Linked DNA regions of Homo sapiens: all the other regions are reported to be linked to region 3. The links are microRNA targets in miRTarBase. Many come from high-throughput screens and were not tested one by one. Region 3 holds a microRNA gene; each other region holds the end of a gene's coding sequence.
Evidence for each region. Region 3 holds the annotated microRNA hsa-miR-4709-3p (UUGAAGAGGAGGUGCUCUGUAGC, at 2,317-2,339, shown strand). A microRNA usually pairs through its seed, bases 2 to 8, with sites in the 3' UTR of a target mRNA and lowers its output. Matches are read on the target gene's strand: a 7mer-m8 pairs with bases 2 to 8, a 7mer-A1 pairs with bases 2 to 7 and ends in A, and an 8mer does both.

Region 1 (3,000 bases), not on the chromosome of region 3:
CCGCGCCCATCTGCCTCCGTTTTTCCAATTGTACAATGTAATTAGCTCCTGCAGTCCGTCTGGCTCACTTTCAGCTCTGTCTCCTAACCCCTTGTTCCGTCCTTACAGCATATAGGCGGGAGCAGAAAGGCAAGAAGGAGGCCTCAGAGCAAAAGAAGAAGGACAAAGACAAAAAAACAGACTCGGAAGAGCAAGACAAGAGCAGGGATGAGGACAATGATGAAGACGAAGAAAGGCTGGAAGAAGAAGAACAGAATGAAGAGGAAGAAGTAGACAACTGAAAAGGGCGGGAGACTGTGGCACCTTGGAAGGTACCACTTGAAATGAGACGTGCTACGTGTTTCTGTGAAGCTTTTCCATGCTGGGCAGAGTAGTCTCAGGCAAAAGTGCCTGAAAAGATCAGAATAAAAACTGACTAGAAATACCGTCAAAACCAGCACTTACCAAACTCAGAGCATCTGAGTAGCAGAATCCTGTTTTGCTTCATCAATCTGAAGGTTATGGCCTTTTGACAAGAGGGATTCTGAACGACTAAATTAGTCAGTTTGCTCGCTTTTGTTTACTTAAATGTATGGTTAGATGGTTTTTGATCTGCAGTCTTCCCTAGTCCCCCAAATAAGTAATAATAACTTCCATGCTGCCTGCTGTGTTCCAGATCACAGAGGCAGCCAAGGCTCAGGAAAAACTGGGGCTTTGCTTATGGTCAGCCTATGTTTGATTGCACAGTCTTTGACAATAGTAGCTTACTAAGACTGCTCAGAATGAGTAAGCTTTAGGAAACTACTAAAATGCTGTGGGAGAATAACAAAATCCGTTCTCTCTCTTCACTTGACAGAAGCATTAACTGAATTTTGTTTTTCATAGACCCACTTGGCCCAAAACCTTTCTATATTGCCTGTAGATGATCGGCCTGCTGGTGTGGTAGTAATCTGATCACAGATATTCTTAAATCAGCAGTGTGGAATGGTATTAGTCAAACATGGTGCCAGTGTCTTTTACAAAAACAGATGGCATAGTGTCAGATGTACCTTACTCTCTGCTACTGTACAGCTTTAGGATTTGTCATCACCTCCCGGAAGGTGTAAAACCCCAGGCTTCCTCTTCTTGTAGTCCATCTCCCAGACTTGTGACTATGGCTTTTCATTCTTCAATTCATGACGAGTGCCAAACTTGATTTTCTCTAGGCACAGCTTTCTCCCTCTGTGCCTCCTGCTTCCTTTCTCTCTCCTGCCTCTCCTCTGCTCCCCATCCCACTTTCTCATCTGCCTCCTTTTCTCACTTCTGTCAGTCTGTAAGCTTTGATAACCTGCTTAATACTCCAAAGTGTGAGTTCCTCTGATCTCTTGATTCCTTAGTTCTAATCTCACGTTTTGTTTTTAAGAGATGGAGTCTCTCACTCTGTGGCCCAGGCTGGAGTGCAGTGGCATGATCATAGCTCATTGCATCCTTGAAATCCTGGGCTCAGGTGATCCTCCCGCCTGAGCCTCCTGAGTATCTGGGACTACAGATGCGTGCCACCAAGCCTGGCTAATTTTGTCTCATGTCTTCTAAAAATTATTTTGTGAAGCCCCTTCACAAAAAACCTTAAGGGAAATCTGATGGTGCTCAGGAATCTAACTCTCCCTAAACCATCCTCTTTAACTGCTTCTAAAATATCTCTGTTGGCCTTTCTTAGCCTTTTTCTGTTTCCATTCAGTGCTCCAAGCGCTTTTTGTTTCTAAGTTGAGTGCTTGGGGTTTGACAGGTAGTGACGTGTAGTTTGACACTGTTAACTTGTTAAATACAGTGAAAAGTTTGTGAGTGAAGAATGCTGAGAAGATTGTAATGCTTTGTACAAATAAAAGTCTTGTTAAAAAATGATGCCTCCTGTTTCATGCTGCTTGTTCACAGTGTGTTTTTGGAGAGAGCCCCTGATGATACTCTCCATGCAGTTTTTGGCGTGTGGTCCTGGCCAGACCTTTGTAAACATGAGATACTGCATCGCCTTGGATGACCAGCAGGTGCTGCTCATTCACAGGCAAGGGCTCTGAACTACTGCAAGAGCATTTGTTTTGTTTTGTTTTGTTTTTTTTGAGACAGAGTCTCAATCTGTCGCCCAGGCTGGAGTGCAGTGGCATGATCTCGGCTCACTGCAACCTCCGCCTCCCAGGTTCAAGCAATTCTCCTGCCTCAGCCTCCCAGGTAGCTGGGATTACAGGCACCCACCACCATGCCCAGCTAATTTTTATATTTTTAGTGGAGACAGGGTTTCACCATGTTGGCTAGGCTAGTCTGAAACTCCTGACCTCAGGTGATCCACCCACCTCAGCCTCCCAAAGTGCTGGGATTACAGGCGTGAGCCAACACACCTGCTGAAAGAGCTTTTTTTTTTTGTAGACGGAGCCTCACTCTGTCTCCCAGGCTGGAGTGCAGTGGCATGATCACGGCTCACTGCAAGCTCTGCCTCCAGGGTTCACGCCATTCTCCTGCCTCAGCCTCCCTAGTAGCTGGGACTACAGGCACTCGCCACCATGCCTGGCTAATTTTGTTTTTGTATTTTTAGTAGAGATGGGGTTTCACTGTGTTAGCCAGGATGGTTTCGATCTCCTGACCTCATGATTCGCCTGCCTCGGCCTCCGAAAGTGCTGGGATTACAGGGGTGAGCCACCATGCCTGGCCGGTGCAAGAGCTTTTCATGGATGTGCTGGGCACCCTTATACATACTAGATTCTCAGCAGCTTCATTTATTGAGCCCCCTACTGTGTCTGGCACTAACTGCTTTCAAGTATTAACCCTTTTTTATTTTTATTTATTTATTTTTTGAGACAGAGTCTCACTCTGTCACCAGGCTGGAGTGCAGTGGCACAATCTCGGCTCTCTACAACCTCCACCTCCCTGGTTCAAGTGATTCTCCTGCCTCAGCCTCCCAAGTAGCTGGGACTACAGCCGCGCACGCCACCACACCCAGCTAATTTTTGTATTTTTAGTGGAGATGGGGTTTCACTATGTTGACCAGGATGG
Region 2 (3,000 bases), not on the chromosome of region 3:
ATTCTCCTGCTTCAGCCTCCTGAATAGCTGGGATTACAGGCACCGACCACCATGCCTGGTTAATTTTTGTATTTTTAGTAGAGATGGGGTTTCACCATGTTGGCCAGGCTGGTCTCGAACTCCTGACTGCAGGTGATCCACCCCCCTTGGCTTCCCAAAGTGCTGGAATTACAGGTGTGAGCCACCGCACCTGGCCCATCCCTTATATCTTAACAAACACTTCTCTCTGCATGTTTTGGATAATTGCAAATATTCTCAATCACTTCTCTCCCTTTTCTTCCCCTTTATTTTTGCAAGTCTTCTTGCATTTTACTTGCAGTAAGATGAAAAATCTGACTGGTCATAGTGGGAAAATCACTGCACAGAAAAGCAGAGAAACCCATGGATTGTTTTCTGTATTCACTCTTGTTGTCTAACAAATTAGAAAAAATTATGGCCAGTAGCAAGTACAGATGCTTTTACGGACAGTGATGAGCTTGAAGTAGACAAATTTGTTTCCACTCTGGGTACCTATTGTCAATGTTGACTTCATCAATATATAAAGGGGGCAAAGGGACATACTGCTGAGGGAAGCTTCTCTCTCTGAAATCTGCTGCCTTAGTTCAGGGGGACAAATGAGATGCCCCACCAAATAAAGCTTTATATCACATTTACATGATTTTTTTTTCGTGTAAGATAAGGATAAGTAAACACACTCCTTGCAATCCCCAGCAATAAATGTATCTGTGTAAACAGACAACAATATGATGTCAGAGTTTTTCAGGGTTCATTTCATTTTGTAAGCAATAGGATGTAACCAGAGATACTTCTATTGGAATACTTCAGTTTATACACTACAAATCATAATGTTAGCACACAACAAACTTTACATAGTTTCTACAACTGTCATTTGCGATTAATTCATCCTCCATCATACTACAGATAGGTAACTTCAAAATAAGAGATGAGTTTATTTTCAAATGTGAAATCATGTCAACATTTTAATCCAAACTCAATATATTTAACACACATATTTAAGAGGCTTACTACATCATGCAATTGGATTAGAACACCTTTACAATCCTATGAAGAGAGTACAGTGCAGAAAAGTCATATCTTTACATTAACCAACAAAATCTTAGCAATTATATTTTAGTCTTACATCACTACAGGGTTTAAAAGTGATCGCTGCAAAATCAGATTTTAAAAATATCTTCCACAATCATGATTTTTGTCCTTCACTGTTCAAGTAAAATCTTGTGTCATCCAGTTGCAAAATCTTATTATTGATAACACGTATACGTGTATACAAACCACACTGCAAATTAACAAAAGAATTGTACCCAGTCAGGCTGACAAAGTTTAATAAAGGGACACTTCTAATCTAATCATTTCATCTTGTAAGTAATATTGTTATTCTCTACATCTATTCATTTGCCATGTTTTAGGAAAGAGCACATTCATACTTTCAAACATGCAAAACATGATAAACTAGAATAAATGGCACTTGAAAAACCATTATAAAAGAGACTTGCCTGAAGTCGTTTCATTTGACAAAAATTAACTAAAAAAAAGGCTAATTGTAAAAAATAAAATAAAATAATACATTATAGAGAATATTAAGTTGAACTTCATTTGCCGTTTTATAGAACTACACCACTTCTGCAAATAAGTATGTTAATTGGTCTGTTCTTTGGTGAAAACAGAGCTATGATTTCATAGTTATGTTGAGGGAGCAGTTAGCAGGTGTGCTCCACAACAAAAAGAAATCAGACAATCTAAAGGACATTGGCTACTGGTTGCCTTTATTCTCAGCACCAGGAATGGAGAAATCTTCAGCAAAACAAGCTCCTAACACCAGATATTCTCTTTATTTAAAATTGTTCAACATGACAGAATGCCTGTTGCGTAACCTGGCTTTTTTTTCTAAAACACACAGCTTTTTGCTCTTTCTTCTTTTACAAAAAGTGGTTTACTACATATATATATACATATATAGTAGCTTACACCAGTGGTGACACTGCAAAGTCAATTTCCTGGGCATTTGATGGCATCAAAATACCATTTTGAAATATACAGAACAATACGAAATGCAGTTCATCACTTGCAGTTACTACTGTTCCACAGAAGTCAGGTCAGCTCTTTGGTTTTGGTGCAGTACTTAAAAAATTAAGGCAAAACTCCTCCTAAAATGTATTTCCCTCCAAGCCCTTATTTGCTTATGTTTACAAAATAACTGTCAACAAAATGCTACCTTTTTTAAAAAAAGCCAGTTGATTACCAATAATGTCAATGCCAGTGATTTGGGTGATAAAGTTATTCTGTATTTCCAAGTACATACAGATATTCTGTAACCTGTTTAGTTTATTTCACCAAATCCGACAACTGATTAAAAACAGTTTATTAGAAATGTTCCTATAAGTGATCCAATTTATCAAAATAGTGTTTTCTTTCTCATGGAAGCTTCAATTATTTTGCTATTTATTATGAAGGTTTGTATTAAAACCCCTTCTTTATTTTTTACAAATAACTTGTCTTGATATGAAAGGAGTTCTGAGTGTTTACAGCTCAAGGGATGGATCTGTTGGGTTTTCTCATCTGGGGTTGAATATGGCTTCATTCTTGTAAGAGATTATTGCCGTCTGCCCTGAAGTGGACTGTTGCCTCAGTTCACTACAACAAGAAGTGAGTGTAACCTTCTGCCCCCGTAACTATAACATCCATCCAGATCCGCATGGCTTCTGGCGATGGGGCTACCATATAATAGATTCTGTCATGAGTCTTGACGCTAAAGGTGAGTAACGGATTAGGACTCTAAAATTCAAAAAAGGAAAAAGAATGTAAAATAAACATCTTAAAATACAACATTAAATAACACAGACATGTGATGACTTCTTCAAAATTTTCAATTTATTAAATTTACAAAGGCGTTACTTTTGCTCTACTATAACTCACACACCTGTCCCAGAGCCTTTTTCAGGATTGACCATTTTTCTGAACAGGAAATCTCAGACAGAACTC
Region 3 (3,238 bases):
ACCTCTGACCCATCCCTGCTGCACCTACCTCTTTTTCTACCAAGCACTCATAAGGTAGATCCTGCTGCAGTGGACCTGTATTAAAGATATGTATCTTGATAAGAATGGAGGAAATAGAGGGATGGCCTTTTTCCATGAAGAAAAAGAGCCGCATTTCTTGAAATCAAGTAGAACTCAGGAGCAATATCTGGCCATTTATTTTCTAGGAAAGGTAAGTAATTAAAGAACATTCTAAAGAGACTCAAATATAGGATGTCTGTGCTTAAGGGCTGTTGGAGACCTTAGAGGTCAGGGACAGATTAGTAGATGAATATCCACATAACCATGGGCATGTCTGAACCTCAGTTACGTATGCAGTGACTAGTCAGAGCCTGATACGTAGTAGGTACTTAATGTATGGTAGTTATTGTCTGTTAAATGAGTTACATTTAATTTGAAAAATAGCTCAAACTGCTTAAGCACTAAATGAAGCAGTAGTTAATGTATACTAGTCTGGAAAAACTCACAAGGCAAGTTTCAAGAACCTGAATATCAGTGCCACTCACATGTTCCATTGTGAAGAAACATTAGAGTACAAAAGAGAGGTAGTAACTAGTGACAAGTAAGCTAATGTCCACATAAGAAAGGACCTGCAGAGTGTCAGTGAGTTATCAAGAATTGGAAGGGACCACTCACGTGATATGAGTGTAACAAGTCAAGGCAGGGATTTCTGATGAAGTACATTATTAGAAAGCAGTTTAAGGGCGTTAACTGAAAGTATATTGCTACAAAAGGTTGTCATCCTTGAAATTATTCATACAGCTACAGACTTCTCTAGGCCATCTTTTGTGCTTTGACATTTCCATTTCTAGCTAACAAGAACGTTTCCTTATACCTAAGAATCTAAATTTTTTTTACTCTCTGCTCTTCATGGTTACATTGGGAAAAAGCTGGATCAGATTGCCAAATACATGAGAAATTGCTTAAATGTGAAATTATTCATGTAAGCCTTCATGTGTTAGTCCATTTGCCTTGTTGTAAAGGAATACCTAAGACTGGGTAACTTGAAAAGAGGTTTGATCAGCTCACGGTTCAGCAAGCTGTACCTGAAGCATAGTGCCACCACCTGCTTCTGGTGAGGCTTCAGGAAGCTTACTGTTAGGACAGAAGGCAAAGGGGAGCCAGCGTGTCACATGGCCAGCACTAAAGCAAGAAAGAGAAGGGGGAGGCCCCAGACTCTTTTAAACAGCCAGATCTCATGTGAAGTCAGTGAGAACTCACTCATCACCAAGGGGACGGTGCTAAGCCGTTCATGAGGGATCTTCCTCCATGATCCAATACTTCCCACCAGGCCCACCTCCAACATTGGAGGTCACATGTCAACATGAAATTTCAAAGGGACAAATAACCAAACCGTATCACTTCATTTATATGCCATTGATCTAAGAGAGAAGAGAATGCTTTAGAAATTACATTTGATAAATTAACCAAGTTAGTATGTGGTGCTGCTAGCATCAAATCACAAGTATAACTTTGTTCACTCTCTTAAGGCTGTAAGCTGTGCCCACATGCTAAGCAGCCCTCATGATTTAAGAAAAAAAGTATGAGGAGTTAGGAAGTTTGCTACTGTACATCTAGGATTCATAGTTAAACCAATTATGGATAGAAGTCAGGTCCTATTTTCATTTTTCTCAATTATTTTTCTCTTTCTCCAGATAAAACTGGTGGTGGAGTGGCAACTTCAGGATGACAAAAACCAAAGTCTCTTCTGCTGGGAAATCCCAGTACAGATCGTAAGTCTATCTGGGGGTGAGAGGGCATGGGTGGAGGGAAGAAAGTGGAGGAGAAATCAGACTGAAACTAAATCAGTGCCATAAGATAAAAGGAATTTCAAGACTGCTGTTTTATGCCTCTCAACCTCTAAAAGCATCTGAGACCCTATTTCCTGAGAGCTCAGAACTGTTGCCTTTGTAATATCCTTTGTTAAAAAAAAAAAAGGTTGAAGGAAAGAAGAGAGAGTGAGACTGTAGAGATTGATTTAACTGTCTTCATTGGTTTTTTTCTGTCGGAGTAAGGAAGGTCCAGCCAGACAGGACCTGAAGGAGGTTGCTTAGGAATGTCTGATAACTTGCCCTAGGGTTATTGCCCTGACAGTGGAGGAAAGGTTCCAAACCACTTCCACTGAGCTGGGACATTACATCCACAGGTTTCTCATCTCTAAGTGCCTCATTGAGTTCGGTGCATCTGGCCAATGAGTCTGCTGAGACTCTTGACAGCACCTCCAGCTCTGCTGCTTCAACAACAGTGACTTGCTCTCCAATGGTATCCAGTGATTCGTTGAAGAGGAGGTGCTCTGTAGCAGAAACTGAGCTCCGGGTGGCTGGTTCTCAGTGGTTGTCTCATGTCTCTTTTTCTGTCTTAGGTGGTTTCATTAAATGCAGCACTTGGTTAGCAGATGTTTAATTTTTTTTTTAACAACATTAACTTGTGGCCTCTTTCTACACCTGGAAATTTACTCTTGAATAAATAAAAACTCGTTTGTCTTGTCTTCTGCATGTGGGCTGTGGTCTTCTCCTGCTCCTTTCAGGGTACATTCTGCTAGAACCATGGAAGGCAGGCCCCCAGTTCCGTGGTCCCAGAGTGCACTGAAGACATGACTTTTTCAGAAACTCTTTTTCCTCCTTTTTGTCCAGTAAGACCATATCTATTTTATATAAAATGGCCTTGTTTTGCTTTATTTGACACAATCTTATACCACCAAGCATGCTCGAAAGAAGCAGTGAAAGTAAAAATCACCTAGTTGAATAATAACGCCTGAAAGGTTGAAGGAACTGAATTTGGTGGGGAGGGCAGGTAGGGGTTAGGGATTACAGGTTAGGATGAGGCATGGTGATCTTTTGGGAACACTGCTGTGAAGAAAGCCTAGAAGCTTAAAAATGAAATGTGAAGTTGTAGCAAGTAATGGCTAAATTAATTAAATCTTGGAGTTTCCTATCTTAAAGTACAAGTATAATCATGGGCATATATTTTGCCACCTATTTTGAGTCAGTATACTAGCAGTCAGCTCTTAGGTGGTACAGGGATTACAACCCCATTCACAATTGAGTTGAATAACATGGACCTTAGGTCATCCATTGTTAGGGCAAAAGGAAGGAACATTCATACAAAGTGCTTGTGAGCAAGTGATTGATTTGATCCAGTTCTTTTCATCCCACTAATTTCACTAGACCCTTGGATTTCTTTGGTCTGTGAGTTTCCC

Region 1: miRTarBase lists POLE3 as a target of hsa-miR-4709-3p. Seed matches in the 3' UTR shown: 7mer-m8 at 821-827 and 7mer-A1 at 1,145-1,151.
Region 2: miRTarBase lists PHLDB2 as a target of hsa-miR-4709-3p. Seed matches in the 3' UTR shown: 7mer-m8 at 1,066-1,072.

Annotation. Positions count from the first base shown.
Region 1 is chr9:113,406,092-113,409,091 of GRCh38, reverse strand. POLE3 (DNA polymerase epsilon 3, accessory subunit) reads left to right here. Exons shown (of 5, transcript NM_017443.5): 5 at 109-1,857. The coding sequence ends at 281. Among named protein-coding and RNA genes, the nearest start is that of POLE3, 3.1 kb to the left of the region's middle.
Region 2 is chr3:111,974,216-111,977,215 of GRCh38, reverse strand. PHLDB2 (pleckstrin homology like domain family B member 2) reads right to left here. Exons shown (of 18, transcript NM_001134438.2): 18 at 699-2,793. The coding sequence ends at 2,653. Among named protein-coding and RNA genes, the nearest start is that of ABHD10, 3.3 kb to the left of the region's middle.
Region 3 is chr14:74,479,236-74,482,473 of GRCh38, reverse strand. MIR4709 (microRNA 4709) reads left to right here and starts at 2,270; the gene lies at 2,270-2,341. NPC2 (NPC intracellular cholesterol transporter 2) reads left to right here. Exons shown (of 5, transcript NM_006432.5): 4 at 1,695-1,772; 5 at 2,186-2,534. The coding sequence ends at 2,200. It also overlaps a transcript of SYNDIG1L not described here.